Regions from separate parts of the Homo sapiens genome. Here regions 1, 3 and 4 are each linked to region 2. The links come from fine-mapping of genetic effects on gene expression. A gene starts in region 2. Each other region holds a variant in brackets. All regions are shown on one strand. Distances are from middle to middle.

Evidence for each region. PIP is the estimated chance that this variant, and not a neighbour inherited with it, causes the effect.
Region 1: its variant is fine-mapped to the expression of CDH1 in whole blood (INTERVAL, PIP 0.99).
Region 3: its variant is fine-mapped to the expression of CDH1 in whole blood (TOPMed, PIP 0.98).
Region 4: its variant is fine-mapped to the expression of CDH1 in whole blood (INTERVAL, PIP 0.95).

Annotation. Positions count from the first base shown.
Region 1 is chr16:68,807,155-68,814,573 of GRCh38, forward strand. CDH1 (cadherin 1) reads left to right here. Exons shown (of 16, transcript NM_004360.5): 4 at 1,270-1,413; 5 at 1,539-1,694; 6 at 3,043-3,187; 7 at 4,530-4,705; 8 at 4,981-5,109; 9 at 6,159-6,341. Among named protein-coding and RNA genes, the nearest start is that of TANGO6, 33 kb to the right of the region's middle. The variant G/A (reference allele first, on the strand shown) is at 2,960.
Region 2 is chr16:68,733,070-68,740,443 of GRCh38, forward strand. CDH1 (cadherin 1) reads left to right here and starts at 4,223. Exons shown (of 16, transcript NM_004360.5): 1 at 4,223-4,394; 2 at 5,228-5,342. The coding sequence starts at 4,347. It also overlaps a transcript of CDH3 not described here. RefSeq lists enhancers at 1-196, 3,244-3,388, a cis regulatory region at 3,316 and a silencer at 4,269-4,338.
Region 3 is chr16:68,708,274-68,715,692 of GRCh38, forward strand. It overlaps a transcript of CDH3 not described here. Among named protein-coding and RNA genes, the nearest start is that of CDH1, 25 kb to the right of the region's middle. RefSeq lists enhancers at 2,595-3,096, 3,097-3,596, 5,975-6,119, 6,808-6,952, silencers at 3,187-3,356, 3,427-3,476, 3,507-3,556 and cis regulatory regions at 6,047, 6,880-6,881. The variant G/A (reference allele first, on the strand shown) is at 3,335.
Region 4 is chr16:69,254,302-69,261,720 of GRCh38, forward strand. SNTB2 (syntrophin beta 2) reads left to right here. Exons shown (of 7, transcript NM_006750.4): 3 at 5,749-5,959. Among named protein-coding and RNA genes, the nearest start is that of VPS4A, 53 kb to the right of the region's middle. The variant T/C (reference allele first, on the strand shown) is at 3,162.

The DNA of each region.
Region 1 (7,419 bases), 74 kb after region 2:
AGTTATCTTTATTGCATATGAAAACTGTTCAATACAAGTCTCAAAGGGTGTTTTTGGCTTCCATCCCAACAGCTTCTGTTAGAACAAATGGAAACCATATAGACATAATGATACAGTGAGATGAAGAGATTTATATTGATCACAAAGTAGTTCTTAGTACAAGTTCTCAAAATCTACTTGTTTTGGGATAACTCCACGTTGAGGACCTGTGTCCCCAAGAAAAATATAAAAGAGGCTGGGTGCGGTGACTCACACCTGTAATCCCAGCAAATTGGGAAGCCAAAGCAGGAGAATCGCTTGAGCCCAGGAGTTCGAGACCAGTCTGGGCAAGATGGCAAGACCCTGCCTCTAAAAAAATTTAAAAAATTTAAAAAATTAGGTGCACATGGTGGTGCATGGTGGTGGATGCCTGTAGTTCCAGCTACTTGGTAGGCTGAGGTCAGAGGCTTGCCTGAGCTCAGGAGTTCAAGGCTGCAGTGAGCTTTGATCACTTCACTGCACTCCAGCCTGGGTGACAGAGCAAGACCCTGTCTCTATTTAAAAAAAGAAAAGAAAAGAAATCGAAAACCCAAATATTCAGTTGTTGAGTAAGCTCTGATATTAAATCATCAGAGTATAATGTTGCTGTTAAAAATTATATTATGGGCTGGGTGTGGTGGCTCATGCCTGTAATCCCAGCATTTTGGGAGGCCACATTGCTTAAGCTTACAAGTTCGAGACCAGCCTGGGTAACATGGCAAAGCCCTACGTCTACTAAAAATACAAAAATTAGTCAGCCATGGTGGTGCACACCTGTAGTCCCAGCTACTCAGGAGGCTGAGATGGGAGGGATGGCTTGAGCCTGGGAGGCAGAGGTTCCAGTGAGACAAGATCTTGCCGCTGTACCCCAGCCTCAGTGATAGAGCCAGATCTTGTCTCAAAAAAATAAAAATGAGATTATGTAGGCTTGAAACAGCTTGTAAATTATAATATCAAACCCTGAAACCAATACTTGTGTATGCATGATGATTATTTGAGCTCTGGACACTAAGAAGGATAAAAAGAGAATGCAGTCTTTACGATATAGCAAAGGGTCTCATTGGTTTTTGTTTTGATTGGTCATTTTGGTGGATATATATAATTTGTCATTGATAAGAGAATGTGTCATTAAATTCAAACTGTACACTGCCCACAGAAGGCTGGGGACGCTGTCTGGCTAGGTTGGACTGTTAGACCTGAAGTATCCGTCTTGAATTGTCTTATCTTGTTCCTCATCTTCTTTCCTTTTAGGCCTCCGTTTCTGGAATCCAAGCAGAATTGCTCACATTTCCCAACTCCTCTCCTGGCCTCAGAAGACAGAAGAGAGACTGGGTTATTCCTCCCATCAGCTGCCCAGAAAATGAAAAAGGCCCATTTCCTAAAAACCTGGTTCAGGTAGAGAAAGAAGTTCTCTGTTTCTCTGGGAGGGATTTGGCAGAGAAGTACCAAGGAGAGAAAGGGAAAAGACCCAGTGTTGGGATCCTTCTTTACTAATTCTTTTTCTTTCATTTTGTCTTCAGATCAAATCCAACAAAGACAAAGAAGGCAAGGTTTTCTACAGCATCACTGGCCAAGGAGCTGACACACCCCCTGTTGGTGTCTTTATTATTGAAAGAGAAACAGGATGGCTGAAGGTGACAGAGCCTCTGGATAGAGAACGCATTGCCACATACACTGTAAGTATCTCTTAGAAGCTTGTTGACACCGGGGTAACATCCACCCAGGATTTTTTGGTCAACCCATGCTGGATCCGCAGATCAGAGGCTCTGAACACATGAGGAGCTTAACTTGACACCTCTTGACCTGTTGCTAAGGAGAAGTGATGGGAGAACGTGGGACAGTTTGGGGTTGTTAATTTTTCTCCTTGTCAGGAAGAAAGGAAGGAGAATCCGCATGCATCCTCATACAACCAGGACAAATTTAGACCCAAGATGTCAACCTGTTCTTGGGGCTGGAAGTCCCTGACCTAAAGGAACAGGACAGTGATGATATAAGGGAGCAAAACCCATTTCTTGGGCTTGGCAGCAGCAAGAGCTTAGGAAAACCAAGAGGTCTTTTTTTTTTTTTTTTGAGATAGGGTTTCACTCTGTCACCCAGGCTGGAACCACAACCTCCACTTCCCGGGTTCAAGTGATTCTCCTGCTTCAACCTCCCGAGTAGCTGGATTATAGGCAGCTGCCATCATGCCCAGCTAATTTTTTGCGTTTTTATTAGAGATGAGGTTTTACCATGTTGGCCAGAGTGGTCTCAAACTCCTGACCTCAGGCGATTCACCCTACTTGGCCTCCCAAAGTGCTGGGATTACAGGAGGGAGCCACTGCACCCGGCCTACAAGAGGTCATTTGTTTTTGTTTTGGATTTTTGTTTTTTTGAGACCGAGTCTACCTGTGTCACTCAAGCTGGAATGCAGTGGTACAATCTTAGCTCACTGCAGCCTGGACCTTCTGGGCCCAAGCGACACTCCCACCCCATCTTCCTGAGTAGCTGAGACTAAAGGCGCAGGCCACCACACCCAGTTAATTTTTGTATTTTTTGTAGAAACAAGATCTTGCTATGTTGCCCAGGCTGGTCTTGAAATCTTGAGCTCAAGCAATCTGCCCACCTCGGCCTCCCAAAGTGCTGAGATTACATGAACCACTATGCCTGGCCAGGAAGTCATATATTGATGCCAAATTCAGAAATATCTGGGGGAAATGCTAGACTAAAAGGACCAGAGCAAGTTTCACCCGGCATGGAATAAGAGTTTTTCAGGCCCGCATCTTCATCTCTAGGCCTGATGCCCTGGTCCTCGTGTGGGAAATGGGAGGTCTGAGCCGTGGGGGGTGTTCTCCAGCCCATGGCTCTTACCTTGTTATAATCTCACTGAAGCAGCAGCAGCACATGTGTGAGAAAAGTCACCCACTGGGGGTCTCAGAGCCTAGGAAGGTGTGGCAGCCAGGGG[G/A]GCGCACTCTGCTCTGGCTGGGCCCCTTCTCCCATGTTTTCTTCCTCATCAGAGCTCAAGTCACCCTCACTTGGTTCTTTCAGCTCTTCTCTCACGCTGTGTCATCCAACGGGAATGCAGTTGAGGATCCAATGGAGATTTTGATCACGGTAACCGATCAGAATGACAACAAGCCCGAATTCACCCAGGAGGTCTTTAAGGGGTCTGTCATGGAAGGTGCTCTTCCAGGTATATCCACTAATGAGAATCTGAATACTCAGAAAGACTCTTAGGTTCTTTGGACCCCAAAGTGTTGTCCAAGCCCAAAGGTTGTGTAACTAAAGCTGATCCTTCCTACGGACAGAACTTCTTGGCAAGCCATTGTTGTGTTATATGCATGTGTGTAACAGTCTACCTGTGGAAACATATAAAATAGGGAGAGTTTAAGAACAATCTTCCCTTTTTTATTATTAATTTTTTTTTTTTTTAGGCTGGGCATGGTGGCTCATGCCTGTAATCCCAGCACTTTGGGAGGCCAAGGTGGATGGGTCACCTGTGCTCAGGAGTTCAAGACCAGCCTGACCAACATGGTGAAACCTCGTCTCTATTAAAAATACAAAAAAATTAGCCGGTCGTGGTGGCGGGGGCCTGTAATCCCAGCTACTTGGGAGGCTGAGGCAGGAGAATTGCTTGAACCCGGGAGGCGGGGGTTGCAGTAAGCTGAGATCACGCCACTGCACTCCAGCCTGGGTGACAGATCCAGACTCCGTCTCAAAAAAAAAAAAATTTTTTTTTCAGAGACAGGGTCTTGCTTTGTTGTCCAGGCTACTTTCAAACTCCCGGGCCCAAGCAATCCTCCCACCTCAGCCCCACAAGCTGCTAAGATTATAGGCATGAGCTACTATACCTGGCTAAGAACAACCTTCCTAATTAAGGAACAGATCTTTACCAGTACCTTAAAGCCCTAAACAATCCCCCTTGGTCACATTCTTTTCTCTCCTCCATAAAGATAACCACACCCTAGGCTGGGTGTGGTGGTTCACACCTGTAACCCCAGCACTTTGGGAGGCCAAGGTGGGCAAATCACTTGAGGTCAGGAGTTTGAGACCAGCCTGACCAACATGGAGAAACCCTGTCTCTACTAAAAATAGAAAATTAGCTGGGCGTGGCGACGCATGCCTATAATTCCAGATACTTGGGAGGCTGAAGCAGGAGAATTGCTTGAACCCGGGAGACAGAGATTGTGGTGAGCCGAATCACGCCATTGCATTCCAGCCTGGGCAACAGGAGCAAAACTCCGTCTCAAAAAAAAAAAAAAAAAAAAAGATAACCACACCCTGACTTTTGTGGTAATCATTCCCTTTCTTTTCTTTATTACCATTTGTGTATTTATACCTGGATAATAAGTTGATAGTTTGAGCTTTCTTTCTCCCCTAGCACTTTGGTAAGAATTCTAGGAATTAGGGAACTCTGACACGGTACCACCCCCATGTCCCCTCCTTTATCCCTCAGGGCAGAATTGGATTAAGCAGTATTGACCCAGTCCCAAAGTGCAGCTTGTCTAAACCTTCATCTCCTTGAACTCTTCCAGGAACCTCTGTGATGGAGGTCACAGCCACAGACGCGGACGATGATGTGAACACCTACAATGCCGCCATCGCTTACACCATCCTCAGCCAAGATCCTGAGCTCCCTGACAAAAATATGTTCACCATTAACAGGAACACAGGAGTCATCAGTGTGGTCACCACTGGGCTGGACCGAGAGGTCAGGGGTCAGGAGGATCCAGAGGGTGTGGAGGACAAATGTGTATTAGCTCAATCCCGTGGACAAAGCAAAATCCTGCTAGGCCAGTTGTCAGTTAATACAGTGATGGTCTAAGCTTTGCATCTAAGCTTGTGCCCAGAGGTTCCGTGCCTAGAAGACAGGCAGGCTGGCATGAAGCACATGGTTAAATATTCTGGTTCCATGTGTTGGGCTGGGCTAGGCCAAAGGTGGCTAGTGTTCCTGGTCCTGACTTGGTTGTGTCGATCTCTCTGCAGAGTTTCCCTACGTATACCCTGGTGGTTCAAGCTGCTGACCTTCAAGGTGAGGGGTTAAGCACAACAGCAACAGCTGTGATCACAGTCACTGACACCAACGATAATCCTCCGATCTTCAATCCCACCACGGTAATTCTATAACTCCTTAGAGGGTTTCCAAAGAAAGGTCTTTTGTTGTTCATGAACTAAGTGTCACCACTGCTCATGGGCGAAGTCTTTGAAAACTCTCTCCAGACTAGAGAATGTTAACTTTAAACTTAAAAGCAAGCATCTTGAGATGGCAGTTGTCTTTTAGTATCTTTTTTCCACCCTTGGCCTGGGGCCAATTGGTGCAAGATTGTGAAGTTGCAAAAAGCACCTACTGATTTCATAGTCTCATGGTACATTTTTATAGCAAATATTACCTGGTTTCATTTCTTTATTGAACAAATATTTTCTAAGTTTATATTAGGCACTGTGTTAGACACTGGAGAGACCATCACACACAAAGATTCCATTCTCATGGTGTTTCTGGTATAGCCAGGAAGACATCTTATGAGAATTATTGTATGCCAAGGATATTACATGCATTCAAGGAGAAGGTATTGAGAACCAAGTAGGGTAAGTTTAAATCATCCTGTATAATGGCCAGGCGTGGTGGCTCACACCTGTAATCTAGCAAGTTGAGAGGCCAAGGCTGGTGGATCCCTTGAGGATGGAGTTTGAGACCAGCCTGGCCAACGTGGCGAAACTCCATCTCCACTAAAAATACAAAAATTAGCTGGGCGTGGTGGTGCATGCTTGTAATCCCAGCTACTCGGGCATCTGAGGCATGAGAGTTGCTTGAACCCAGGAGGCGGAGGCTGCAGTGAGCCGAGATTGTACCATTGCACCCCAGTGCGCCCATTGCCTGGCCTCTCCTTGTCACATCTTCTCCTTGAAGCTTGCTTTCAGTTAGCCAGGTGTGGTGGTGCATGCCTGTGGTCCCAGCTACTCTGGAGGCTGAGGTGGGAGGATTGCTTGAGCCCAGGAGGTTGAGGCTACAGTGAGCCATGATCGCTCAAATACACTCCAGCCTGGTGACAGTGAGATCTTATCTCAAAAGAACAACAAAAAAAGAGGAATCCTTTAGCCCCCTGAGACTCAGCTCTGCTAGCAGTCTTGGTACTTTGTAAATGACACATCTCTTTGCTCTGCAGTACAAGGGTCAGGTGCCTGAGAACGAGGCTAACGTCGTAATCACCACACTGAAAGTGACTGATGCTGATGCCCCCAATACCCCAGCGTGGGAGGCTGTATACACCATATTGAATGATGATGGTGGACAATTTGTCGTCACCACAAATCCAGTGAACAACGATGGCATTTTGAAAACAGCAAAGGTTTGTATGGTACCTGGCAAGATGCAGAAACTGGCATCCTCACAGCTGTTCATACCCTTGTCCCCTGGTATCTTCTTAGAAGTAGATTCGCTTTGGCAGGGGGACAGGGTGACTTTCCCAGATTGTAGTGGACCATGTGGGATTTGCAGTGGCTCTTCCTGCTCATGTAAGAAATCAAGAAACTGTGCTGTGTGTGGTGGCTCACGCCTGTAATCCCAGCACTTAGGGACGCTGAGGCAGGCAGATCACGAGGTCAGGAGTTTGAGTCTCTGCTAAAAATACAAAAATTAGCCAGGCATGGTGGCACGTGCCTGTAATCTCAGCTACTAGGGAGGCTGAGGCAGGAGAATTGCTTGAACCTGGGAGGTGGAGGTTGCAGTGAGCCAAGATCGTGCCATTGCACTCCAGCTCTGGGTGACAGAGCAAGACTCAGTCTCCAGGGGTGGGCGGGGAAAAGGAGGCCGGGCGTGGTGGCTCACGCCTGTAATCATAGCACTTTGGGAGGCCAAGGCGGGCAGATCACAAGGTCAAGAGATCGAGATCATCCTGACCAACATGGTGAAACCCCATCTCTACTAAAAATACAAAAATTAGCTGGGCATGGTGGTGTGCACCTATAGTCCCAGCTACTAGGGAGGCTGAGGCAGGAGAATCGCTTGAACCTAGGAGAGGGAGGTTGCAGTGAGCCAGGATCGTGCCACTGCACTCCAGCCCGGCAACAGAGTGAGACTTCGTCTCAAAAAAAGGAAATCAAGAAGCTAAGGCTTCTTGGTGGCTCATGGTGGCTCATGCCTGCAATCCCAGCACTTTGGGAGGCCGAGGCGGGCAGATCACCTGAGGTCGGGAGTTTGGGACCAGCCTGGCCAACATGGTGAAAACCTGTCTCTACCAAAAATACAAAAATTAACTGGGCGTGGTGGTGCACACTTGTAATCCCTGCTGCTTGGGAGGCTGAAGCAGGAGAATCGCTTGAGCCTGGAAGACAGAGGTTGTAGTGAGCCAAGATCGTGCTACTGCACCCTGGCCTGGGCAACAGAGTGAGACTCTGTCTGAAAAAAAAAAGAAATCAAGAAGCTGT
Region 2 (7,374 bases):
TTACAAGAACCTTATGAATTAAGTGCTATCAACATTCCCATTTTACAGATGAGGAAACCAAGATGGTGGAGATAAAATGACTTATGCTTCTCAACTAATGGCAGAGCCAGAAGTGAATCCAGGCTGGAGTGAAGTGGCTCCAGTGCTCAAATGATCCTCCTACCTCAGCCTCCAGAGTAGCTGGGACTACAGGCATGCACTGCCATGTCCAGCTAATTCAAAATAATATTTGTTGGGGAGATGGGGTTTCACCATGTTGCCCAGACTGGTCTCAAACTCCTGGGCTCAAGTAATCTTCTCACCTCCCAACTAGCCTCCCAAAGTGCTGCGATTACAGTTGTGAGCCACCAGGCCTGCTTAGGTATCCCTGTTTGATACAAGAGAAAACAGAGGGCAGGCACAGTGGCTCACACCTGTAATCCCAGCACTTTGGGAGGCTGAGGTAGGTGGATCACTTGAGGTCAGGAGTTTGAGACCAGCCTGGCCAACATGGCGAAATCCCGTCTCTACTAAAATACAAAAATTAGCCAGACATGGTGACGTGTGTCTGTAATCACAGCTACTCAGGAGGCTGAGGCACAAGAATCTCTTGAACCTGGGAGGCAGAGAGTGCAGTGAGCCGAGATCGCGCCATTGCACTCCAGCCGGGGCAACAGAGCAAGACCTTGTCACTAAATAAATAAATAGGAAACAGAGAAGCAATTCAGTGTGTTGCGAAAGTCACACAGCACCTGTCTTCCACAAGGAGCCCCTCTGTGTTCCCGCCTCACCCTGGACACCTGATCTACTGTCTTTGGAGCTTGGAGAAGGACTTGCCGAGAAGTCTGAAGAATGCATCAGGCCTGACCTGACTTTGCTGCCCCTAATTGTTTTCTAAAATCCTTTTTATTGAATTATCAGAGTGTAATGGAAGAGTCGATGAGAGTCGCTGCAGAGTTACGAGGCCAAGGCTTGCTGGGTAGAAGAAAGTAAAGCCCTAAAGGCTCCCAGGGCCCAGCGATGGTATAAAATATGTATTTTTACATAACTGAGAGGAAAAAAATAAGCAGACAGTACAGCCCCATGGGGGAAACGCCTCTTTCTGTATTTCCATTATCTTGTTCAAGGCACGATCCTAGTGGGAAAGGAAATACCGGAGCCTTCTCCCTCTGAGCCTCCTGGTGGGTTAAGAGCAGAGGGAGCCAAAATACGACATCCAAAAGACCTGATTGGAAACTCATTAAAATTGAGGGGACAGGTTGTTGGGGGGGGCGGTGCTGGGCTGCCCAGAAATCGTCTGCATTTGAGAAATTACTTGATGGACTCAGAGGCACCTTTAGCTCTGGGTGAAATATTCCAAACATGGCTTTCCCCAGGAGGAAGCGAAATAGGGGCTGGGCCTTTTGAAAGAGTAACCCCTACTCCAAATATTTATTGAGCAGTTGCTATGATGAGCCAAGAACTCTGCTTAGCGATTGTTTTTGTATTAGCTCATGCCAATTCACTTATACAAAGGAGAACACTGACTTCCCCAAGGTCACAGGGCTAGTGAGTGGCTGACTCCACTTAATGCTGTGTAGTTCTAACCATGCTTGAAGGATAAAGGGAAAGGAGGTGCCCTTGTCGGGGTAGACAAGCCACCCAGACGTGGCTGGCCACAGGGAGTCAGACAGGGAAGTTGTCTAACCTAACATTTGCCTGTCTATTCTGTTTTTGTCTTTTGATGGAGGACGGCGGGTGCTGGAGGGCCACTGGCCCAGGACCTGAGACCTTTGGCCCCTATCTATTCTATTTTTGATCCTAAAATTATTTCACTGGGGACAGAATTCTCTGGAGAAGGTGATGGTGGCCATGGTGTGGCTGTGGCATTAAAAGCCCCACTCTGGGGGTCAGAAGATCCTGGGTTTTGGTCTTTGGCTTTGACATTGACCTGCCTATGTGACATTGAACAAGTTATTTGCAAATCATAGGTTTGGGTGAACTCTAAAGGTCTCTTCCAGGTCAACATCAAAAAACAGACTGAAAACTGCAGCTCCAGCTGGAAGACTGGGACCACATGAGATGAAGCTGATTGTTAGAAGAAAGGCCCTGGAATCAGAGAGGTTGGTTCCAGTCCTGCGCCACCTCTCATTGGCCTCAATCTCTCTAAGCTTCAGTTGCCCATCTATCATATGGGAATAATAATACAGCTCTTGGGTTGTTTTGAAATGAGCTTAAATGAGCTGGTCAGTGGCTGGGCACGGTGGCTCATGCCTGTAATCCCAGCACTTTGGGAGGCTGAGGCAGGTGGATCATCTGAGGACAGGAGTTCAAGACCAGCCTGGCCAACATGATGAAACCCTGTCTCTACTAAAAATACAAAAATTAGCCAGTCGTGGTGGCGCATGCCTGTAATCCCAGCTACTCAGGAGGCTGATAGAGGAGAACCGCTTGAACCCAAGAGGCGAAGGTTGCAGTGAGCCAAGAACACACCATTGCACTCCAGCCTGGGCGACAGAGCAGGACTCCGTCTCAAAAAAAAAAGAGCTGGTCAGTGTCAAATGCTTAGCACAGAGACTGGCACAGTAATCTTCAATGTCCAGCACCTATTGTTACTATTTTTTTTTTTTTTTTTTTTTTGAGACAGAGTCTTGCTCTGTCGCCCAGGCTGGAGTACAGTGGCGCGATCTCGGCTCACTGCAAGCTCCACCTCCCAGGTTCATGCCATTCTCCTGCCTCAGCCTCCCGAGTAGCTGGGACTACAGGCGCCCACCACCACGCCTGGCTAATTTTTTGTATTTTTAGTAGAGACGGGGTTTCACTGCGTTAGCCAGGATGGTCTCAATCTCCTGACCTCGTGATCTGCCCGCCTCGGCCTCCCAAAGTGCTGGGATTACAGGCGTGAGCCACCATGCCTGGCCCTATTGTTACTATTTTTACCCCTCACTTCTGTACAGAGCATTTATGGCTCAAGAAACATTTGTCATTTTAATTGTATGGGAGTCCCACAACAGCATAGGGAGACATTTCTGATCATTATTCCCATTAGGAGGGTGGAGAAACTGAGGCTTTGGGAGGTGGTCCTGACCTAGGGAATCAATTTGCTGACTCACTAACCCATGAAGCTCTACAGTTAAAAAAGACTAGATTAAAAAATGAGAACTCAGTAAAGGGGCTGAGGCAGGAGGATCGCCTGAGTTCAGAAATTTGAGATCAGCCTCGGCAACATAGTGAGATCCCCTCTCTAGAAAAATTTTTTAAAAAATTAGGCCGCTCGAGGCAGAGTGCAGTGGCTCACGCCTGTAATCCAACACTTCAGGAGGCTGAAGAGGGTGGATCACCTGAGGTCAGGAGTTCCAGACCAGCCTGGCCAACATGGTGAAACCCCGTCTGTACTAAAAATACAAAATTAGCCGGTGTGGTGGCACACGCCTGTAGTCCCAGCTACTCAATAGGCTGAGACAGGAGAGTCTCTTGAACCCGGCAGGCGGAGGTTGCAGTGAGCCGAGATCGTGCCACTGCACTCCAGCCTGGGCAAGACAGAGCGAGACTCCGTCTCAAAAAATACAAACAAAACAAACAAACAAAAAATTAGGCTGCTAGCTCAGTGGCTCATGGCTCACACCTGAAATCCTAGCACTTTGGGAGGCCAAGGCAGGAGGATCGCTTCAGCCCAGGAGTTCGAGACCAGGCTGGGCAATACAGGGAGACACAGCGCCCCCACTGCCCCTGTCCGCCCCGACTTGTCTCTCTACAAAAAGGCAAAAGAAAAAAAAATTAGCCTGGCGTGGTGGTGTGCACCTGTACTCCCAGCTACTAGAGAGGCTGGGGCCAGAGGACCGCTTGAGCCCAGGAGTTCGAGGCTGCAGTGAGCTGTGATCGCACCACTGCACTCCAGCTTGGGTGAAAGAGTGAGACCCCATCTCCAAAACGAACAAACAAAAAATCCCAAAAAACAAAAGAACTCAGCCAAGTGTAAAAGCCCTTTCTGATCCCAGGTCTTAGTGAGCCACCGGCGGGGCTGGGATTCGAACCCAGTGGAATCAGAACCGTGCAGGTCCCATAACCCACCTAGACCCTAGCAACTCCAGGCTAGAGGGTCACCGCGTCTATGCGAGGCCGGGTGGGCGGGCCGTCAGCTCCGCCCTGGGGAGGGGTCCGCGCTGCTGATTGGCTGTGGCCGGCAGGTGAACCCTCAGCCAATCAGCGGTACGGGGGGCGGTGCCTCCGGGGCTCACCTGGCTGCAGCCACGCACCCCCTCTCAGTGGCGTCGGAACTGCAAAGCACCTGTGAGCTTGCGGAAGTCAGTTCAGACTCCAGCCCGCTCCAGCCCGGCCCGACCCGACCGCACCCGGCGCCTGCCCTCGCTCGGCGTCCCCGGCCAGCCATGGGCCCTTGGAGCCGCAGCCTCTCGGCGCTGCTGCTGCTGCTGCAGGTACCCCGGATCCCCTGACTTGCGAGGGACGCATTCGGGCCGCAAGCTCCGCGCCCCAGCCCTGCGCCCCTTCCTCTCCCGTCGTCACCGCTTCCCTTCTTCCAAGAAAGTTCGGGTCCTGAGGAGCGGAGCGGCCTGGAAGCCTCGCGCGCTCCGGACCCCCCAGTGATGGGAGTGGGGGGTGGGTGGTGAGGGGCGAGCGCGGCTTTCCTGCCCCCTCCAGCGCAGACCGAGGCGGGGGCGTCTGGCCGCGGAGTCCGCGGGGTGGGCTCGCGCGGGCGGTGGGGGCGTGAAGCGGGGTGTAGGGGGTGGGGTGTGGAGAAGGGGTGCCCTGGTGCAAGTCGAGGGGGAGCCAGGAGTCGTGGGGACGATCTTCGAGGGAAGGAGAGGGGCATCCGTAGAAATAAAGGCACCTGCCATGCCAAGAAAGGTCGTAAATAGGAGTGAGGGTCCCGGGGATAAGAAAGTGAGGTCGGAGGAGGTGGGAGCGCCCCTCGCTCTGAGGAGTGGTGCATTCCCGGTCTAAGGAAAGTGGGGTACTGGAGAATAAAGACATCTCCAATAAAATGAGAAAGGAGACTGAAAGGGAACGGTGGGCTAGGTCTTGAGGGGGTGACTCGGCGGCCCCCTCCCGGGAGTTCCTGGGGGCTCGGCGGCCGTAGGTTTCGGGGTGGGGGAGGGTGACGTCGCTGCCCGCCCGTCCCGGGGCTGCGGGCTGGGGTCCTCCCCCAATCCCGACGCCGGGAGCGAGGGAGGGGCGGCGCTGTTGGTTTCGGTGAGCAGGAGGGAACCCTCCGAGTCACCCGGTTCCATCTACCTTTCCCCCACCCCAGGTCTCCTCTTGGCTCTGCCAGGAGCCGGAGCCCTGCCACCCTGGCTTTGACGCCGAGAGCTACACGTTCACGGTGCCCCGGCGCCACCTGGAGAGAGGCCGCGTCCTGGGCAGAGGTGAGGGCGCGCTGCCGGTGTCCCTGGGCGGAGTAGGGAGGGGTTGGAAAGGGGCCGAGAAATTGCACTCCCACACCCCTGGGTTGCAATGGGCAAGCTCCCTCCTTGGCTCAAACGACACCCCTTGGAATTTACGCAGATTTGGGGATCCAAACGTTTACGACTGAACACTGTGGTGGAGGGGGTAACCCTGCCTGGTTGTTGACTATGTTATAAAGAAGAGGAGGTTGAGGGCACTTACTAGAAGCCTTCGTATTTCTCTTATTGCCCTCAGCACTGTAGAGACAGTCTCTCATTTCAGACTGCAAAAACCTGGTGGGTGGGAAGGCCTGGCAGGAGTATTCCCGTTTTACAGTTGAGCAAACCGAGGCTAAGAGAGTGACGTCCACTTGCTCAGGGTCAGCAGAGCAGATATCTGAACTGGGATCTGACTCCCAGGCCCCATTAAGCACCATCTCTGGGATGACTGAAGAGCAGCCCTCTCTTGGTTACTGGGCTGTGGCTTTTGTTTACAGATATAAAAGCTTTTTTTTTTTTTTTTTTTTTTTTTTTTAAAGACAGGGTCTTGCTCTGTTGCCCAAGCTGGAGTGCAGTGGCACAATCATAGCTTACTGCAGCCTCCATCCTCTGGGCTCAAGTGATCCTTCCCATCTCAGCCTCCCTAGTAGCTGGTTATCATGGGCATGTGCCACCACACCTGGATAATTTTAACTTTTTTTTAGGCTGGGCGCAGTGGCTAACGCCTGTAATCCCAGCACTTTGGGAGGCCGAGGTGGGCGGATCACAAGGTCAGGAGTTCGAGACCAGCCTGGCCAACATGGTGAAACCCCATCTCTACTAAATAAAAATATAAAAATTAGCCGGGCATGGTGGCGTGTGCCTGTAATCCTAGCTACTCAGGAGGCTGAGGCAGGAGAATTGCTTAAACCCAGGAGGCAGAGGTTGCAGTGAGCTGAGATAGTGCCACCGCACTCCAACCTGGGTGACAGAGCAAGACTCCGTCTCAAAAAATAAATAAAAAATAAATTTTTTTTTAGAGACAGGAGTCTCTCCATGTTGCCCATGCTGGTGTTGAACTCTTGGGCTCAAAGGATCCTTCTGTCTCAGCCTCTCAAAGTGCTGGGATTGCAGGCCTGAGAGACTGTGCCTGGACCAAAACATCTTGATACAGGTACTGTTTCCCCCAAGGAATAATGATTTTTTTTTTTTTTTTTTTTTTTGAGATGGAGTTTTACTCTTGTTGCCCAGGCTGGAGTGTAATGGCGTGATCTCGGCTCACTGCCACCTCTGGCTCCCAGGTTCAAGTGATTCTCCTGCCTCAGCCTCCTGAGTAGCTGGGATTACAGGTGCCACCACCATGCCCAGCTAATTTTTTGTAGTTTTAGCAGAGAAGGGGTTTCACCATGTTGGCCAGGCTGGTCTGGATCTCCTGACCTCAGGTGACCCACCTGCCTCAATCTCCCAAAGTGCTGGGATTACAGGCATGAGCCAGCACGCCTGGCCAGGAATAATGATCTTTTTTTAAAAAAAGCATGGTAGTTCTGACTCAGGATGAAAATGCATACACCCAATGTACTTCTAGGCCTTATCGTTGTGACAATCTAGAGTTTGCTTTGTTCCACTTGACTGTTGTCCAGGGAGCAAGGGAAGGGGCTAGTTTCTCTTCTGGTTTCACTGAATCCCAAGTGCTTCCTTTATATCAAACCACTTTCTCCTCTCTCATGATTTTACTTGATTGGGTATCACAATAAGAGGCATTTTTTTTTTAAGAGAAATCACCCACAATTCCCCTGAGGGAACACCTCCACTGTGTCATTCTTCCAGTCTTTGACCACATGAATCTTTAGCAATCACGCTGTTGTCTTTACATTTTTTTTTTGAACTTTGGAAGTCATTCGAAGTTTTTTACAGAGAAACTACAGCTCGACTGATGAAGTATATTTGCTCTGTGTGCTCTAGAGCTTTCTATTGGATCAGAAGTTATCTCTAACTCCTGGGCTCAAGTGATTCACCCGCCTTGGCCTCCCAGAGT
Region 3 (7,419 bases), 25 kb before region 2:
TCGAGATCCCACCACTGCAGTCCAGCCTGGGTGACGAGCAAAATTCCATCTCAAAAAAAAAAAAAAGATAATTAGTAGGACTTGAACAAATTAAGCAGTTACCATGTGCCAGGTAAAACGCTGAAGTTTCACTCCAAATCAAACCACGTTTCCTCAGAGCCTCTGCACTTGCTGTGCCCTCTGCCTGGCATGCCATTCCCCTAGATTTCTCTCGGCTCCCTCACGTCCTTCAGGCATCACCCACATGTCAGCCTGTCAGAGATGCCAGCCCTGAAGGGGACTGCATCCTCCTTAGAATTGCAGCCCTGCACCCCCCAATGCTTTATCTTTTCTGTCTTTCTTTCTTTTCTTTTCTTTCTTTCTTTTTCTTTTTTTTTTTCTTTTTTTTGAGACCGAGTCTCGCTCTGTCGCCCAGGCTGGAGTACAGCGGCATGATCTCAGCTCACTGAAACCTCCACCTCCCGGGTTCAGGCGATTCTCCTGCCTCAGCCTCCTGAGTAGCTGGGATTACAGGCACCTGCCACCACACCTGGCTAATTTTTGTATTTTAGTAGAGACGGGGTTTTACCATGTTGGTTAGGCTGATCTCAATCTCCTGACCTCAGGTGATCCACCCACCTCGGCCTCCCAAAGTGCTGGGATTACAGGTGTGAGCTACCATGCTGGCAGATTTTTGTATTTTTTAATTAGGTACTGGGTTTCACTATGTTGACCAGACTGGTCTCAAACTCCTGAACTCAGGTGATCTGCCCACCTCAGCCTCCCAAAGTGCTGGGAGTACAGGTGTGAGCCACTGCACCCAGCCTATTTGTTGTTTTTCTGGGACAAGGTCTCACTCCATCTACTAGGCTGAGTGCAGTGGTATAATCACAGTTCACTGCAGCCTTGACCTCCTGGATTCAAGCAATCCTCCCACCTCAGCCTGCTGAATAGCTGGGACTACAGGTGTGTACCACCACCCCCAGCTGATTTTTTGTTTTTGGTAAGGAAGGGGTCTCACTGTGTTGCCCAGGCTGGTCTCGATCTGGCTTCAAGCCATCCTCCCTCCTGGGCCTCCCAAAGTGTTGGGATTACAGGCACGAGCCCCTGCACCCGGCGCAGAAGCACTCTTGTCAATTAGAGTGCTGGCAAGCAAGAGAGGCAAGCTCAAAAGGTGACCGGAGAAGGGTTCATGGAGGTGCAGTCTACAGTGGGGTGAGCAGGGTTGCAGGGTCTCCCTCCGTCACCCAGGCTGGAGTACAGTGGCACAATCTCGGCTTACTGCAACCTCTGCCTCCCAGGTTCAAGCGATTCTACTACCTAAGCCTCCCAAGGTGCTGGGATTGTAGGCGCCCTCCACCACGCCCGGCTAATTTTTGTATTTTTAGTGGAGACAAGGTTTCGCCATATTGGCTAGGCTGGTTTCAAGCGACCCACTCACCTCGGCCTTCCAAAGTGCTGGGATTACAGGCGTGAGCCACCGCGCCTGGCCTCCTTTTTCTGTCTCCTTCATTTCTAAAGACGGCACCATCATCAGCCCAGCTGCCCAAACCAGAAACCTAAACACCTTGTCCTCAACTCCTTCCTTTTATTGACTGCCCATGCTGATCATCCATGGAGTCCTCCCAGATATCCTGGAATTCAACCACTTCTGTCCATTCTCCACCACCACCTTTGTCCCAGCCACCAGCACCCCAACTGGGATGGCCACAATGGCCTCTGCGCTGGTTAATTCCCCGTTTCCCCCAGATCCACTCTCTTCCCTTCTTCCCGCTGCTCTGCAACCAGGAGGCAGCCCTAGCTGCCCTGTGTTCTGGATTAGGTTGGTTACATTGGGGGAAGGAACCCACAGGAGATGGGGCGGGAAGGAGGGGAAGTGGCAGTATCCCTCCGCCTGCTCCCTCCCTGCCGGGCTGGGTTTGGCACTGGCTGCGCTCTGCACCCTCTATGGCCACAGCTCCTGTCATGTGGACCCTCTTCCATGGCTCCAACACTCCCTGGGGTCTGAAAGGCAGTTTCTGCACTTGCCCTGTTAGGACTAAGGGCTGCCCTGGCTTCCCATTTGCTAGTCTGAGGATGCCTCGCCATCCCAGCTGGTCACCCTAACCGAGTGGTTCTCAACCAGGGGTAGTTATGCCATCTCAGGGGATATTTGGCAATGTCTGGAGTCATTTGTGGTTGTTACCACTGGAGTGGGGGTGCTACTGGCATCTAATGAGTAGAGGCCAGAGATGTTGCTAAACCCCCTACAATGCACAGGACAGCCCCCACAGCACATGATCCTCCCTCTGAAAAGTCAATAGAGCTTAGATTGAAAAACTATGGCTGGGCGCGGTGGCTCACGCCTGTAATCCCAGCACTTTGGAAGGCCGAGGCAGGCGGATCGCTTGAGACCAGCCTGGCCAACATGGCAAAACCCCGTCTCTACTAAAAATACAAAAATTAGCCGAGTGTGGTGGCGGGCGCCTGTAATTCCAGCTACTCAGGAGGCCGGGGCAGGAGTAATCGTTTGAACCCAGGAGGCAGAGGTTGCAGTGAGCCGAGATTGAGTGACTGCACTCCAGCCTGGGCGACAGAGCGAGATTCTGTCTCAGAAGAAAAAAGGAGAGAAAGAGAAAAAGGGAGAGAGAGAGAGAAAGAAGAAAAGAAGAAAGGAAGAAAGGAGAGAGGGAAGGAGAGAAGGGAGGGGAGGGGAGGAGAGGGGAGGGGAGGGGAAGGAGGGGGGAGGGGGGAGGGGACGGGAGGAAAGGGGAGGGGAGGGGAGGGGAGGGGAGGAGAGAAGGCGAGGTGGCTCATGCCTGTAATCCCAGCACTTTGGGAGGCCAAGGTGGACGGATCCACTGAGGTCGGGAGTTTGAGACCAGCCTGACCAACATGGAGAAACCCTGTCCCTACTAAAAATACAAAACTAGCCGGGCATGGTGACGCATGCCTGTAATCCCAGCTACTCGGGAGGCTGAGGCAGGAGAATCGCTTGAACCCAGAAGGCGGAGGTTGCCGTGAGCTGGGTTGCGGCATTGCACTCCAGCCTGGGCAACAAAAGTGAAACTCCAGCAGAGAGAGAGAGAGGGAGAAAGAGAAAAAAAGAAAGAAAAAGAAAGAAAAGGAAAGAAGAAAGAAAGAGAAAGAGCAGGTGTGAGGAGGGCAGTGCAGAGTTCTGGGCATTTTGAACACTTGGAGGCGGCTGGGGGACCTGTGAGTGAGGAAGTTCAGGTGCAGCAGGGCTACCCAAGGTTACACAGGTGAGGAACTGCACACAGGGCTGGCTGCACGCAGGGCTGGCTGCGCCCATGCCAGGGACGGTATGGTGCCGGTTTCCCACAGCCTCTGTTCTGCTTCCCACTGGAGAGGGGAC[G/A]GGGAAGTGGCCAGCAGCTGGAGAGGAAGGGAAAGGGGAAGTGGTGGTCCCGTGGGAACTTACATCCTTTATTTCATCTTCTTTGCCTCCCCACTGGGGTGGTTTCCCAGGAAGAGAAGTAAAAGCTGAGGGGTGAGGCCTGAGTAGGGGGCACGAGGGCGAGGGCATGGGCACTGACTCACAGAGAGGAGCAGAGGAACCCTGCTTGTGTCACCTTTCAGTATCGGACAGTGGAGTGGGAGGATAAGAGGAACAAGGCAGCCCTGTCTACTCTGGGTGCAGCCCAGGGATGGAGGAGCAGCCAGTGCTCCCAGGACAGCCCTAAGATGGAAGTTTTGAGAGTGCACCCTCCACCCTGCATGATCCTAGGAAGCTAGGAGTCCAGAGATGTTCCTTGTGTTTTGTTTGTTTCTTGGGTTTTTTTGTTTTCTTTTTTTTTTTTTTTTTTGAGACAGACTCTCGCGATGTCACCCAGGCTGACGTGCAGTGGCACAATCCCAGCTCACTGCAGCCTCAACCCCCCAGGCTCGAGCAATCCTCCCATTCGGCCTCCCGAGTAGCTGGCACTACAGGTGCATGTGACTATGCCTGGCTAATTTTTGTACTTTTTATAGAGATGGGGTTTCTCCATGTTATCCAGGCTGGTTTCCAACTCCTGGGCTCAAGCAATCCTCCCACCTTGACCTCCTAAATCCTGGGATTACAGGCGTGAGCCATCACACCCGGCCCAGAGAGGTTTCAACAAGAGCAGCTGGAGCTGGGAGTAAACAGTGGCCAAGCAGAATTTCAAAAGAAAATAATAATAAAGCTACGATAATAGCAACAATAATAATAATGGTCATAATAATTATAATAACCTTGTCTTAAAAGCATTCTAAGAGCGGGTAGTCTATGGGTACATTTTCTCTTATCTGGCTCCAATCAGGTGGCCAGAGTGATCTGATCTTTCTAAGATGAAAATCCAATACCATAACATTGTGCAGATGGTGAAGATGTTATAATCCCCATTTGACAGATATGGGAGAACGGTGGGAGAACTTGGCTGAAATTTGAACTCAGGACCTCTCAATTCCCAGGTTCCTTTTTTTTTTTGAGATGGCGACTCCCTCTGTCACCCAGGCTGGAGTGCAGTGGCTCGATCTTGGCTCACTGCAACCTCCGCCTCCCGGGTTCAAGCAATTCTCCTGCCTCAGCCTCCCAAGTAGCTGGGATTACAGGCCTGTGCCACCATGCCCAGCTAATTTTTGTATTTTTAGTAGAGTTGGGGTTTCACCATGTTGGCCAGGCTGGTCTCGAACTCCTGACCTCAGGTGATCCACCCGCCTCAGCCTCCCAAAGTGCTGGGATTAAAGGCATGAGCTACCGTGCCTGGTCAATTCCAAGGTTCTTAAGCAGCCCCCTCGCAGCCAGTGCAGCATCCTCCCTTTCTGATCTGTCTCCCCTCCTCCTGTGATCTCCCCGCCCTTCTGTCCCTCCTCTCCCCACTCTCTGTGTCTCTATGGAAATGAAGTCAAGATTGTTTTTGGTTGACTACTCTTTATGACCCTTGAAAAACATTTTAAATGTTGATCTATCTCATACATTGTTTCCGTCAAGGAAAAACAATAAAATTAAGTCGCTTCACTTTTATATGTCTCCCCCTGTCTCTTTTGCCCCACTAATAATTCAGTTGACCCTCAATAAAGGGGGAAAAAGTTCCCTAATCCTAATCAACAAGCATATCGGGTTGCTCTTCTTCCTGCTGGCTGAGGCGGGAGCAAGTTTATTTTTCCAGGGATTTTAGACATCCCGACCCTGGAGCTGCCAGGGAATAGTGTCAAGGTGTTGATTTCAAGTGTTTCAGAGTCTGCTTACAAACCCTCCACCCCTCCTCTCGGTGCCCACCTCCCCTGACCTAGGCCAAACCCCCAGATTTCTTGTTGAGATGATTGCAGGAGCCTCCCAGCTGTGCTCCCTGCTTCCCAAGGACTCCTCCTCCAGCTATGCCAGAGTGACCTTTCCGGAACGCAGATCCCATCACATCCCTTCTCTGCTTAAACACTTCCGTTCTGTTCCCATGACCTACTGGACAAGGGCCAAGCAGCATGTCATTGGACGCCCTTCAAATCCCAGCCTAGGTTGACCTTATAGCCCTGGCTCCTGCCCACTGTCCCGCTCCCCAGGTACAGACCACACAGCCACACTGGGCAATGCACCCTTCCTGGAATATAGGCCTTCCTGCTGCTTTACCTTTGCTTGTGCTGTTTCCCCTACCTGGTGTGCCTTTTCTTCTCACCCCATCCCTGCCCAAATCTGATCAATTTTTATTCTATTTATTATTATTATTATTATTATTATTATTTTGGAGACAGAGTTTCGCTCTGTCACCCAGGCTGGAGTGCGGTGGCTCGATCTCAGCTCACTGCAACCTCCGCCCCCTGGGTTCAAGCAATCCTCCTGCCTCAGCCTCCCAAGTAGCTGGGATTACAGGTACACGCTACCATGCCCAGCTAATTTTTATATTTTTAGTAGAGACGGGGTTTCATTATGTTGGCCAGGCTGGTCTCGAACTCCTGACGTCAGGTGATCTGCCCACCCTGGCCTCCCAAAGTGGTGGGATTATAGGCGTGAGCCACCGCACCCAGCCCCCCAGTTAGATCTTGAGCTCACTGAGCACCTTTGCCTAATTATGTTCAGCCTCTACCCTCACCCCAGCACCAAGCACAGGACCTGAGACCCAGGCAGGTGCTGAGAAATCGGAATTGAAATCCAGGACTGAAAACCTTCTGTGAATTCCATCACCACATTCCCAGCAAAGGGAGTTAATGGCTGGTCTCTAGTCTCTCAACGACTTTGCCTCTGCCTTAGCCTACAAGCAGCTTAGTTCCTGCCAAAATGTCATTTTTTTCCCCAGGAAGCCTTCTGGATTTAGTATTCCTCCCCTAGAGTTTTCTTAGCATCTGTATGAATACACCCAGCACACAGAATTGTAATTGTCTCTTTACCTGTCCATTTCCCCAACCAGTCTGAGGGACTGTGATCTCGCCCACCGAAGGTCCCTGGTGATAGGTAATAGCTGTAGAGCACTTTCAGCTACCAAATGTATTCCGAGCACTTTATGTGTACTACCTCATTTAAGTATCAAGACAAGGCCGGGTTCAGTGGTTTGTCTGTAATCCCAGCGCTTTGGGAAGCGGAGGCAGGAGGATTGCTTGAAGCCAGGACTAGCCTGGGTCAACATAGCAAGACTTCATCATTACAAAAATTTAAAAATTAGCCAGGCATGGTGGCCCGTGTCTGTAGTCCCAGCCACTTGGGAGGCTGAGGCAGGATCACTTGATCCCAGGAGTTTGAGGCTGGCAGTGAGCTATGATTGGGCCACTGCACTCTAGCCTGGGCGATAGAACAAGACCCTGTCTCAAAAAATAAAAAGTATCAGGACAACCTCATAAGAGAGGTACTATTAGCTCCATTTTACGGAGGGGCAAACCAAAGTCAGAGAAGTTCTAAACTTGCCCAATGCCACACACCCAGGAAGTAGCAGAAAGGGAATTTGAGGCCGGGCGCCATGACTCACGCCTGTAATCCCAACTCTTTGGAAGGCTGAGGTGAGCAGATCACTCGAAGCCAGGAGTTCGAGACCAGCCGTGCCAACATAGCAAAACCCCATCTCTACTAAAAATACAAAAAATTAGCCAGGCATAGTGGTGCAGCCCTGTAGTCCCAGCTACTCGGGAGGCTGAGGCAGGAGAATTACTTGAACCTGGGAGACGGAGGTTGCAGTGAGCCAAGATGGTGTCACTGCACTCCAGCCTGGGCGACAGAGCACGACTCTCAAAAAAAAAAGAAAGGATTTGAATCCAGCTCTTGCCCACTCCACAGTAGTATTAATTGCATAACTGAGTGAGAGGAACTGGGGCGATGTTCAAGTAGCCCGGGCACACCCTGGAGTCCTGCTCATCTTCTCCCAGAGACATAGCCCCACTCCAGCCTGCAGGGAGTTGCCCAATAGCAAGGCCAAGGTCTGTACTCATAAAGCGTTCTTGGTGCACAGCATTTTAATAAAGACATGTTGTTCTTTGCCCTGAGAAGCCGCCCCACTTCCT
Region 4 (7,419 bases), 520 kb after region 2:
TAACTGGTACCACCGCTTCCCCGGCCTCTTAGGGATTCTCCAACATGGATTGGCTGGGATTTGGCTCTTTCCACTTTTCTTAAATCAGCTAAGTCATTTAACTCCTCTCTTTACTAGCTTCCAAAATTTTGTTGTAGTCACTCCTCTCCTGTTCTTGGATTTGTAAGATTATGCTTTTTAAAAAATCCCCTTTAAGTTTGGTGGTGACTTCTTACATACAACCCCAAAAGCACAATCCATAAAGAAAAAACTTGACAAGTTGAACCTCTTTAAAATTTAAAACTTCAGCCCTGCAAAAGACACTGAAGAGAATGAAAAGACAAGCCACACATTGGGAAGAAATCTTTACAAAATACATATCCAATAAAGGACTGGTATCCCAAATATACAGAGGGACCAAGCACAGTGGCTCATGCCTATAATCCTAGCACTTTAGGAGGCCAGGGCAGGAGGGTCACTTGAGCCCAGGAGTTCAAGACCAGCCTGGCAACATAGTGAGACCCTGTCTCTACAAAAAATTTTTTTTTAAAGTAGTTGGGTGTGGTGGTGCACATCTGTGGTAGTCCCAGTTAACTGGGAGGCTGAGGTGGGAGGATCACTTGAGACCTGTATGGTCAAGGCTGCAATGGGCTCTTAGGATGGAAGAATTTCTGCCCAGTAATCTGTGTCCCTACTGATGACTTCTGTGTGTAGTCTCATTCTTCTTGCATTCAATTAAATCTCACCAGGCCATTTCTGTCTTTATTGTAATTCATCTCACATCCCACCATAAAATTATTTTATTATTATTTTTATTTTATTTATTTATTTTTTAGAGACAGGATCTCGCTCTGTCACCCAGGCTGGAGTACAGTGGTACTATCATAGCTCACTCTAGCCTCGAACTCCTGTGCTCAAGAGATCTTCCCGCCTCAGCCTCGCTAGTAGCTAGGACTGCAGATGTATGTCACCATGCCTGGCTGATAAAAAAAAATTTGAGGGCCGTGCACAGTGGCTCACGCCTGTAACCCCAGCACTTTGGGAGGCCAAGGTGGGCGGATCACGAGGTCAGGAGATCGAAACCATCTGGCTAACATGGTGAAACCCCGTATCTACTAAAAATACAAAAAATTAGCCTGGCATGGTGGTGGTGCCTGTAGTCACAACTACTCGAGAGGCTGAGGCAAAAGAATGGCGTGAACCTGGGAGGCGGAGCTTGCAGTGAGCCGAGATCACGACACTGCACTCCAGCCTGGGCGAAAGAGCCAGACTCCGTCTTAAAAAAAAAAAAAAGAAAGAAAGAAAAATTTTTTGTTGGGGCTGGGCACGATGGTTCATACCTATAATCCCAATACTTTGGGAGGCTGAGGCGGGTGGATCACCTGAGGTCAGGAATTTCAGACCAGCCTGACCAACATGGTGAATCCCCCACTCTACTAAAGATACAAAAACTAGCCAGGCTTGGTGGCACTTCCCTGTAATCCCAGCTGGGGAGGCTGAGGCAGGAGAATCGCTTAAACCAGGAGGTGGAGGTTGCAGTGAGCTGAGACCGCGCCATTGCACTCCAGCCCGGGCAACAAGAGGTAAACTCTGTCTCAAAAAAAAAAAAAAATTGGTTGGGGTGGGGGGCGACGCAGTGGCTCACGCCTGTAATCCCAGCACTTTGGGAAGCTGAGGCGGGCGGATCATGAGGTCAGGAGTTCGAGACCAGCCTGGCCAACATAGTGAAACCCCGTCTCTACTAAAAGTACAAAAACTAGCCATGCGTGGTGGCCGGCGCCTGTAGTCCCAGCTACTCGGGAGGCTGAGGCAGGAGAATCGCTTGAAACCAGAAAGCAGAGGTTGCAGTGAGCCAAGATCGGGCCACTGCACTCCAGCCTGGGTGAAAGAGCGAAACTCCGTCTCAAAAAAAAAAGTTTTGTAGAGATGGGTTCTCACTTTGTTGCCTAGGCTGGTCTCAAACTCCTGGCTTCAAGTGATTTCCCCGCCTCAGCCTCCCCAAAGTGTTGGGATTACAGGCATGAGTCACTGTACTTGGCCTAATTTTTTTTAAATTGTAAAATACACATAACATGAAATTTCTTAATCATTTTTAAGTGTACAGGTCAGAAGTGTTAAGTATATTCATATTTTTGTACAACCAATGTCCAGAAATTTTTCTTCTTGCAAAACTAAAATACTCTACTCATTGAAAAACTCCCCATTTCACCCTTCCTTCAGCTCCTGGCACTTACCATTCTGCTTTCTGTGAGTTTGCTCTAGATACTTCATGAAAGTAGGCTCATATGTTATTTCTTCTTTCGTGACTGGCTTATTTTACTAGTATAATATCCTCAATGTTGATGCATGTTGTAACATGTGTTAGGATTTCTTTCCTTATTAAGGCTGAATAATGCCATTATATGTATATACTGCATTTTGTTTATCTGTTCCTCCATTGATGGACATTTGGGTTGCTTCCACCTTTTGGCTATTGTGAATGATGCTGCTATAAACATGGGTGTACAAATGTCTCATAAAATTATTTTTTAAGTTAATTGTTTTGATCATGTTGCCCTCCTGTTGAGAATTCTAAATGATTCTATGTTATTAATAGTTACCAATTAAGGCCAGGCACAGTGGCTCACGCCTGTAATACCAGCACTTTGGGAGACCGAGGCAGGCGGATCACTTGAGGTCAGGAGTTCGAGACCAGCCTGGCCAACATGGTGAAACCCTGTCTCTACTAAAAATACAAAAAATTAGCCAGGCTTGGTGGCATGTACCTGTAATCCCAGCTACTTGGGAGGCTGAGGCAGGAGAATCGCTTGAACCCGGCAGTCAGAGGTTTCAGTGAGCTGAGATCGTGCCACTGTACTCCAGCCTGGGCGAAGAGCGAGACTCCATCTCAAAAAAAAAAAAAAAAAGTTACCAATTAATATTCAGACCTAACCTGCTATTCAAGATCCTCTAAATTCTGGAACCAAGCTATGTCTTAATATGTTTAGGTATAGAATAGGAAATCAAAGAGCTCATCAGAACTGTATCTAAATAAAAAGCAAATAGCTTAAAACTTTTTATCTGAAAGTTTTCCTCTGAGTAACATGAACTTTCAAATATGGACTTTTCTTAAGCCCTTTGGCTGTTCATGACTCTTATTTATTTATTTATTTATTTATTTATTTATTTATTTATTTATTTTC[T/C]TGAGACGGAGTCTTGCTCTGCTGCCCAGGCTGGAGTGCAGTGGCATGATCTCGGCTCACTGCAAGCTCCGCCTCCGGGTTCATGCCATTCTTCTGCCTCAGCCTCCCGAGTAGCTGGGACTACAGGCGCCCACCACCACGCCCGGCTAATTTTTTGTGTTTTTAATAGAGACGGGGTTTCACCATGTTAGCCAGGATGGTTTCGATCTGCTGACCTTGTTATCCACCTGCCTCGGCCTCCCAAAGTGCTGGGATTACAGGCGTAAGCCACCGCGCCCAGCCACAACTCTTATTTTATGTCTTCTATTTTCTAGAACTTTTGTCCTATTTTGCTGTTACCATAGAACTTTGACAGCATATAAAAGATGGATAGACTGGTAGGTAGGCCTGGAAGTAGCTAGATGATCTACTTTTTTCATCACTGTATCTCCAATACCAGTGCCTAGCACAATATTTGGCATGTAGTAGGTGCTCAATAAATGTTTATTTAAGAAAGGATAGACCAACCAGAATTCAAATGAAAATGAATATTTGCAATACAAAATATGACAATTTAAAGTATTTGGAGTTATAAAGGGTTTAGAAACTGACAAAAGAGCTTCAAAGCAGAAATGCTAGTATACTTGTAAATTGCTTATCTTTTTGACAAGTGGCATAGAATCTGATGATAGTGCTTTTAGGCAGCAAAAACTGTCTTCAGAAAATAATGTAAAGAAAACTCTCTCCCTGGTCATTGGCAGTTTGTCAATTTGTAGCCTACCATGAAAAACACTAAAGGCTTTTTTTTTCCATTTTAAAAGATATATATGTTCACAGCAGAGTATATATCTTAGTCATTTATTTATTTATTTGACTTTTAAAATTCATCTTTGCAAGAACTTTGATTGAAACACAAAACAATATTCAATAGATTGCTTTATAAATAATTTTTTCAATGTATATTTAAAATATTTTAGCTATTTTCTAAAGGTTACTTTTGAAATACAGATTGCTCTTGGTGAGCATTAATACAGAACAGTTATAGTGTTGATCTCTTAACTATTTTTCTACCTAATTCACTGGAGGAGTAATCATATAAAAGTACCCAAACACAGTTTCAAATTTTACAGAGTAATAATCTTCTGCTAATTTTCTTGTTCTTTCTTTTTTTTTTTTTTTTTTTTTTTTGAGAGGGAGTCTCGCTTTGTCGCCCAGGCTGGAGTGCAGTGGTGCAATCTTGGCTCACTGCAACCTCCAGCTCCTGGGTTCAAGCAATTCTCCTGCCTCAGCCTCCTCAGTAGCTGGGATTACAGGCATGTGCCATCACGCCTGGCTAATTTTTGTATATTTTAGTAGAGACAGGGTTTAGCCATGTTGGCCAGGCTGGTCTCAAACTCCTGACCTGAGGTGATCTGCCCATCTCAGCCTCCCAAAGTGCTGAGATTACAAGCGTGAGCCACCATGCCTGGCCGCTAATTTTCTATTTATTTCACATAATGTAAATTTCAGTTCATTATATGGCAGTACATCTTTTTAAGCTGGCACTACTTTATACCAGAATTTCCTAAATGCTTAAAAGGGTATCAGTTCCTTCTTTACAGTGTGCCTATGTGGTTCAGCAAGCATGCTTTTCATTTTTTAGACATAGAAATTAAGGCAAAGTGATCTACTGTAGACTCTACAGTAAGTTCCCTCAGCTTATTACATTAACACCGAAACGACAGATCCAGCAGTTGGTGTTTCTTTTTTTAATTTTTTCTCAGGTTCAGTAACTAGCCCAAGTTGGTCTTTCTGATTTTTTTTTTTTTTTTTTTTTTTTTTTTGAGACAGAGTTTCGCTCTGTCACCTAGGCTGGATCTCGGCTCACTGCAACCTCCACCTCCCTGGTTCAGGCAGTTCCCCTGCCTCAGCCTCCCGAGTAGCTGGGATTACAGGCACACGCCCCAACGCCCGGCTAAATTTTTTGTATTTTTGGTAGAGTCAAGGTTTCACTGTGTTGGCCAGACTGGCCTCAAACTCCTGACCTCAGGCAATCTGCCCGCCTTGGCCTCCCAAAGTGCTGAGATTACCGGAGTGAGCCACCGTGCCCGGCCTCTGATTTTTATCTTTCCATGTGTTGTTTTCTTTGGAACTGGACTCTAGGGAATTAAGAGAAAGTATCTTTTTTTTTTTTTTTTTTTGAGACGGAATCTCGCTCTGTCGCCCAGGCTGGAGTACAGTGGTGTGATCTTGGCTCACTGCAACCTCCGCCTCCTGGGGTCAAGCGATTCTCCTGCCTTAGCCTCAGCTTCCTGAGTAGCTGGGATTACAGGCACCCACCACCATGTCCGGCTAATTTTTTATATATTAGCAGAGACAGAGTTTCACCGTGTTGCCCAGGCTGGTCTCGAACTCCTGAGCTCAGGCAATCCCCCTGCCTTGGCCTCCCAAAGTGCTAGTATTACAGGCATGAGCCACCGTGCCCAGCCAAGAAAGTATCTTTATTTGAGTATACAAATTTATTTGAAGAATGCAAAATTAAAATAGATTTGCAGTTATGTATTTTAAACCTGGCAGGTTTGGTGACTTCTGTCCTAGCTCACTTTTTTTTTTTTCTTTTTCCACACAGATTGATAGAGCTACATTCTCCTGATAGCAGGAACACGTTGATCCTACGCTGCAAAGATACAGCCACAGCACACTCCTGGTTCGTAGCTATCCACACCAACATAATGGCTCTCCTCCCACAGGTGTTGGCTGAACTCAACGCCATGCTTGGGGCAACCAGTACAGCAGGAGGCAGTAAAGAGGTGAAGCATATTGCCTGGCTGGCAGAACAGGTAGGCTGGGAGGCAGGGCAGAGTATCACCTGGTTCCCATTCAGTGCCAGGATGGTTCCTCATTTAATATATCTGTAATACTTACCATGCAGTTAGGACCTGGATATCTAGCTTGCAGATCTTTTGTTTTTCAGTGTTTTGTTTCACCTCCCTTTTTCTCCTTCTACCTTTGTCTATTTGTTGCTAATTATCCACTCAACCAGAAGTAGCTGACATAGTAATCACTATCATACTATTACTAAAGAAGTTCTTATTACCATCTCTGTCCTTAATGACAGAGGATAATTTTCATGATTTTAGATCAGGGTCAGCTAACTTTTTCTGTAAAGGGCAAGATAGCGTCACGGCTACTTGACTCTTCTGTTGTAGCAAGACAACTGTCATAGGCAATAGGAAAATGAATGGGTGTGACTGCGTTTCAGTAAAACTTTATTTACAAAGACAAGTAAACTGGTGGTTGGCTGGATCTGGCCCAAGTGTCATAGTTTCCCAACCCTTGTTCCCTACTGGAAGAGCTTCTAGGGGCAGCAGGCTATAGTTGATTCCTCTGCTCTGGGAAAAGTATAAAATATACAAAATACTTTACAATTAGACAGAGGTACAATTGTCTTCCATAACTGAAAAGTGAAAAAAAGAGAAACAAGAAAGTCTGAGTGGATGTTGAGTTAAAGGAAAAGAACTTGAAAACCCAGGTTATTTTAGATCCCAGGTTTGACAAAAGGAGAGTAAAAGTTCCGTGTGACATTATGTTACATCTTTTTTCTTCACCATCAACTAGGCTAGAGGGGCTTGAAAAAAAAGGACTGGACTAGGGGGTTCAGAGATGAGTGTTTAAGTGCTAGCTCTGTTTTTCACTGCTTTTGAGTCTTTTCGAAACTTACGTTTTGAATCCTAGTTGTGTGTGCAAAGGGCCAGGGAGTGGACTAAATAACTGGTTTCCAAAAAAGCAGAATCAGCACAGGAAGGATTTTGTTCTTTCATTTTTGATTTTTTTTTTTCAAGTACAGTTTCCCACTGGTTCCCACCTTCCTCCCCAACATAGTTCTAACTTTTTTTTTTTTTAAGTTGAGGTTGATTTTATTTGAGGAGGATATTGTCCCCAAAGCAGTTCTGATGTGGTAGGTCTGTGGGTGGTGCCTGGTGATCTTGGTGGTACCAAGTAATTGTGGTAATTGAGGGGCCAATTTTGGTCACCAGCGAGAGTAATTTTTTTATTTTATTTTTTGCCACTTCTCAACTTTTTATGAACATTTCAAATAAAATTATAATAAATGAGAATGTAATATTAGTACAGTGATCATTTCTATAAAGCATAATTAGAATAAAAAATTAATGAAAGTCATGATATAAGTACTTATGACTTTGAAAATTTTAACATTTTAGTTGTGTTTATCATTGTTTCTATATTTTATATGCTAGTTGAAAAACTGAATTGAATAGTAATTGTTCTGTGCTTTTGG